Regions from separate parts of the Homo sapiens genome. Here region 2 is linked to region 1. Evidence: fine-mapped expression QTL. A gene starts in region 1. The other region holds a variant in brackets. All regions are shown on one strand. Distances are from middle to middle. Region 1 holds the start of EDARADD (EDAR associated via death domain). Region 2 has its middle 31 kb from the start of LGALS8.

Evidence for each region. PIP is the estimated chance that this variant, and not a neighbour inherited with it, causes the effect. A credible set is the group of variants that fine-mapping cannot tell apart.
Region 2: its variant is the best candidate, but not a certain one, in a credible set for the expression of EDARADD in whole blood (TOPMed, PIP 0.51).

What each region holds. Positions count from the first base shown.
Region 1 is chr1:236,393,184-236,396,102 of GRCh38, forward strand. It overlaps EDARADD (EDAR associated via death domain), which reads left to right and starts at 1,103. Exons shown (of 6, transcript NM_145861.4): 1 at 1,103-1,322. The coding sequence starts at 1,262. RefSeq lists an enhancer at 1,725-1,774 and a silencer at 1,975-2,384.
Region 2 is chr1:236,491,156-236,494,074 of GRCh38, forward strand. No RefSeq gene overlaps it. Among named protein-coding and RNA genes, the nearest start is that of LGALS8, 31 kb to the right of the region's middle. The variant A/G (reference allele first, on the strand shown) is at 1,349.

The sequences.
Region 1 (2,919 bases):
GTGACAGGTCCATCAGCGAAATCCAGCATATTTGACTCCATGATTACCAAATGCACTATCTCCATTTATTGGAAAAGGAAAATTGGAGGTCACTCAAAGAGCAGTGAAGTTATGGAAATATGAAATTTTTCACATGACTCTGAGATTGAGTGTTTGGGTACTATCGGGAAATGTTAAAAATGTCCATTTTCTTTTCTTTCTTTCTTTCTTTTTTTTTTTTTTTTTTTTTTGAGACAGAGTCTCACTCTGTCGCCCAGGCTGGAGTGCCGTGGTGCAATCTCAGCTTACTGCAACCTCCACCTCCCAGGTTCAAGCGATTCTTTTGCCTCAGCTTCCTGAGTGGCTGGGAGTACAGGCATGTGCCACCAATCCAGCTAAGTTTTTTGTATTTTTAGTAGCGGTGGGGTTTCATCACATTGGCCAGGCTGGCCTCGAACTCCTGACCTCAAATAATCCACCTGCCTTGGGCTCCCAAAGTGCTGGGGTTACAGGTGTGAGCCACTGCACCCAGCCCAAAAATGTCTATTTTCAATAGTGGTTTAAAACACTCTTGGACAGCAAAAGAAATAAAAGTTGAAGGACATTGTGACAGCAAATTGATTGTATGGGAACTCTGGTGAATGCGAATCATTTTTAAATTACTTTTTTTGTAAAGTGCAAAACAACAATAGCACCCATTTGCGTCATACTTTATAGTTCGCAAAGCACATGGGAAAAATAAAGGTAATGATGGGGATCGTTGCAATTCATAGGAAAGGAGGCACGAGGAAATGAAAATGAAAGGGAGTAATAACTACGTAACTAGTCAATCTTCCTTAAAAAAAAAAACCCTTAAAATATACCACCATCTTCTATTTGATATAATGCAGAATGGGAATGATAAAAACATGAATTACATTTCAGAGTTTCAAAAAGCAAACCAGCTTTATAGCAATGCTTGAGGTTGGGCTGCTAACAAGCTCACTCAACTAGTGTTTCCTGACGGCCAACGTCAGAATAATTCCATCTCCATGAGAAGTACAGAAAGAACCACAAACCAAACCTCCAAATTGATTCTAAGATAAAATACCCTTAAAAAAAATTTCCCTTCCTATCCGAAGGCAGACCAAGAGGAAGTTTATCCTCCCACCTACAAATTCCCCAGAGAGCTTTCATCTAGAAGGTTTGACTCTGGCCAGACAACCAGCGAGCATCTTCTCGCAATCTGTTGCTTCTTCCATGGCAAACTCCAGAGAATTAAGAAGCCAAACTCAACATCGCCATGGGCCTCAGGACGACTAAACAGATGGGGAGAGGCACTAAAGCTCCTGGTCACCAAGAGGGTATGTAGGCATTTGCTGTCTTCCTGGATTTCTCAGAGCTGAGTTTTTAGCCAGAGGTTGCTTATTTACGATAATTCTTGGATATATTATACACTAAATACTATTATTATCTTTTTCGACCCGACTTTTATCTTTCTGTTCTTATGTGTGAAGGCAGAGAAAGATTATTTAGAGCTCTTCAAAGATTCCTATTTAATTTAAAATGCCTGTCGCCTTCCTATAATAGGCTTATGATGGATGATAGCTTTAGTTAAAATGTAGCAATCTTAAATATATTCTTCATAACCAATTCCAACGTGTTCTCACTTAAGTAATGGGTATAAAACCCCACTTAAGCGTAATATTTTAAATATTTGAAGCCATCTTTTCTGAGAGAACCCGAAGCTGTTTTTTCTAGAGAAGCTGTGAGTGTGTATTGGGCGACTTCTGTTCACTCCTTTTCTGCAGCACTCACCCTGGAGGTCATGTAGTAACTAATGCCAAAGAAAAATCAAAATAGAAAGTACCAGCGTGTGCCATCATGCAGCGGCAGAGCCTGCTTAAAGATCAGGAAATTTGTCTAAATATCAGATCGCCGGCGGGCATCTCAGCCCAGGCCTGTGTAAGGGGAGTTCTGGTGTCTCAGCTGAGGGCGTGAGTAGGGAGCCAGGAAAGCGACCCGCGACTGCAGCCGTTTCTTAAGGCCAGTCCTTCGCTCGCAGTCTGTCCCGGGCGGCAGTCGTGTCAGCCCCCCGCTAGGACCCGCCCAGGGGGACGTGGGTACCGGGCAGGACGCGCGCTCTGGGCGCTGGGGACGCCCGGGACACTCGGGGCCCCGCCTTGCGTCCCAGCCCCGGGTCGCGGCACCCCGGCTCCCGCCCCGCGCCTCTGGAGGGAGGTACCGAGGGACGCGCAGCGAAGGGGCTTTGCTAATTGCCAAAGCAGGAAGTGAGCTCGTGGAAGAAGCGAAGGAGGAGAAGAAGAAGGGAGGGGAAGGCGGAGGAGGGCAGGGGCGCGCAGAGCCACGGTTTGCTCCAGGCGCGTCGGAACCGCAGGACTTTTCATCCCCGTGGTCCCACGGTCCTCCCGCGCCCCGGAGGCCTGCCAGCCCCGCTCGGACGCTCGTTTGCCCCTAACCCGCCGCCATGGCTTCACCGGACGACCCTCTGCGCGCAGGTAAAGGGACACAGCGCCGCGCCCGCTCCTGGAGCGAGCACCGCGGGGCGGGAGCTCGGGAGGCGCTCGCAGCAGCCGCAGGGCTATCGAGGCCGGGCCTCGGCGACCCCCGAGGGAGGCCCGGGAACCACCCCCGACCCAGGCGCCAGACCCGGAGTCGCACGGGGCTCCCAGTCCAGCCCCGCGAGCGGCTGCTGACCGCCCCTCCCGCGCTCGCCAGGGCCCCTGCCCCGCGTCAGCCACCGCGCGCCTTCCCCCTGCCCATGCCGCAGCCCCCGTGGCTTTTGTTCTGGACTCGGGATGCCAGGTTGAGACACGTCCTGCAAACCTCTGGCAGAAATGGGCGCAAGGGGGTGGATTTCGTTTTCGCCTCCCGGGCTTTTTCTTTCTCCCCGCTCACATGCCTTCTCATTACTCCTCTTCCTCTCTCCCATTGCACTTT
Region 2 (2,919 bases), 98 kb after region 1:
ATTTCCTCCGTATGCCGACGGCCTTCCTCTCCCTGCCACGGGCTTCCTTTTTCCCTGACTATGCAGAAGCAATTTGTTCGCTTGTGTTTCTTTTTTTTTTTGAGACAGAGTCTCGCTCTGTCACCCAGGCTGGAGTGCAGTGGCGACATCTCGGCTCACTGCAACCTCCGCCTGTCAGGTTCAAGCAATTCTCATGCGTCAGCCTCCAGAGTAGCTGGGATTACAGGTGTTTGCCACCAAGGCTGGCTAATTTTTAGTAGAGACGGGGTTTCACCATGTTGGCCAGGCTTGTCTCGAACTCCCAACATCAGTTGATCCACCCATCTCGGCCTTCCAAAATGCTGGGATTATAGGCATGAACCACCGCATCTGGCCTTGTCTTTCATCCTTAATGACACTTTAGTCCTAATAATGCTAAAATCATTTTCTACTCTTTGAATTGAAACACAGCTTATCTACATGAGCCCAAGGCAGTAGCAACATTCACCTCCATTTCTTCTCTGATCTCTACCTTCTGAACCCTGTGGACTTGGTTGTAAATGGATGAGGGCAAGTCTTGCTTCCTTCCCCTGTGTTTACAGAGGATCGTGGCTGAGATGCTGGGCCACACTCTGGGCCTGCTGGCACCCCTGGGCCGGTGGCTGCTGCCCCTCAGGGTGCTCACCACCTAGACCAGAAGAACCAAGGTGAGGGAGAGCCTGTTTTCTTTCTTCCTGTGGCTGCGGGGGCTGTGAGGCATGGGTCTAGTGGCTGTGTTTAGCTGGGGATGCCTCCTAGAAATCAGCTCCACCGTTGAAGAGATCAAAGCAATGCACAGTGCCACTTGAAATGAAACGATTGAGCTTATCAGCGCTTTTGCAAATGTACAAGAGGGTAGCTCCCCCGGACATCCTGAACTGAGCCATGCTCTTCTATTTTGTGTAACAGCCCAGTGACCCCTGAATCTTCCCCTGAGGCAGGTCCCCGAAGCTTCATGGAGGATGTTCCTCAGCTGACCAAGGTGAGGCTCTTGAGCTCCTAAATCTTTGTGATACTGTTTATACATCTTTGTGCTGTACTTTTTAAGCTGACTTCGTGTTATCACCTGTATGATTTTATGTTTTGCTTCTAAATAAGTACAGATTATTTTAAACTCTAATAATGGGTGCTACAAAATTAAAGATTATGTCAATCACTGTCTCTGATGAGTTATTTTATGTAGATTTCAACACAATCATTGATTCATGTGTACTCTTGGTCAGTCATCAGTCATCTGAGTACCTAGTGGGTTTCCAAAATGGGTCCTGGATGCTGGGGATGCAAAGATAAGCAACACATTTCTATCCTCAACAGCCTGTAGATGAGGGAG[A/G]ATCACTGCGGACAATCAGGGAAGTTACCGGAGAGAGCAGTGCACATGTGGTCTAGAAACTGGTGGAACAAAGTTGAGAATCACTGAACTAGGAGGAAAGACAGGTCACTGACAATCCAAGGCACAGTGACTCACACTCTAATCTCAGCACTTTGGGAGGCCAAGGCAGGAAGATCCACTGAGCTCAGGAGATAAAGACCAGCCTGGCTGACCTATGGAGACCCTTCTCTACCAAAAAAAAAAAAAAAAAAAAAAACATTAGCCTGGCATGGTGGGGTGTGCCTGTGGTACCAGCTATTCAGGAGGCTGAAGTGGGAGGATCGCTTGAGCCCGGGAGGTCAAGACTGCAGTGAATCATGATCACACCATTGCACTCCAGCCTAGGGAAGAGAGCAAGAAAGACCCTGTCTCAAAAACAGAAAAAAATCCAGTAAAATGTTTCAGATGTTGTTAAAGGTGATTTCACTGTTACTTTTCACCTCTCCTCATTTTACATCTCTGACCTATGCTTGTCCTCTGACTTGCCAGACATTCCTAGCTATGGACTTGATGTCTCGACATGGAGGCTCACAGGCACCCCAAACTCAGCCTGCCCTAAGCTGAACCCATGATCTTTCCTTCCAAACTTGTTTCTCACCAGAGTTCCCATCTTATCATCCACCTAGTTGTTCAAGTCATCCTTAAGACCTCCCTCTCCTTCACTGTCTATTCTACCTCCCTAATATCTCTTAAATCCTTCCCTCCTCTCCCACCTCACAGCCACCATCCTAACCTAAGCAGCCACCCTTTCTCACCCTATAATGACCTCCTGGCTGTTCTCTATAGAGTTGGTGAATCCTTTCGTCTTCAGCCTGAACCCCCTTTCGAGGGATTCTTATATATATACATAGATATACACAAATATATATGTACATATGTACATATGTGTGTATATATGTACATATGTGTATGGATATACATATGTACATATGTGGATGTACATATGTACATGTGTATGGGTGTACATATGTACATGTGTATGGGTGTACATATGTACATATGTGTATGGGTGTACATATGTACATATGTATATGGGTGTACATATGTACATGTGTGTATGGGTGTACATATGTACATGTGTGTATGGGTGTACATATGTACATGTGTGTATATATGTACATGTGTGTATGTACGCATGTACATATGTGCATGTATGTGCATGTGTATGTGTGTGTATGTACACGTGTGCATATGTGTGTATATGTGTACACGTGTACGTGTGTATATATATATATATATATATACTGGCTGGAGTGCAGTGGGAAAGTTTTGGCTCACCACAAACTCCACCTCCCAGGTTCAAGTGATTCTCCTGCCTCAGTCTCCTGAGTAGCTGGGATTACAGGCGTGCACCACCATGCCCAGCTAATTTTTGTATTTTTAGTAGAGACGGGGTTTCACCATGTTGGCCAGGCTGGTCTTGAACTCCTGACCTCAGGTGATCCACCCACCTCGGCCTCCCAAAGTGCTGGGATTACAGGCGTGAGCCACCGTGCCTGGCCGGATTCCTATCTTGAAGACGAAGCCCCAGA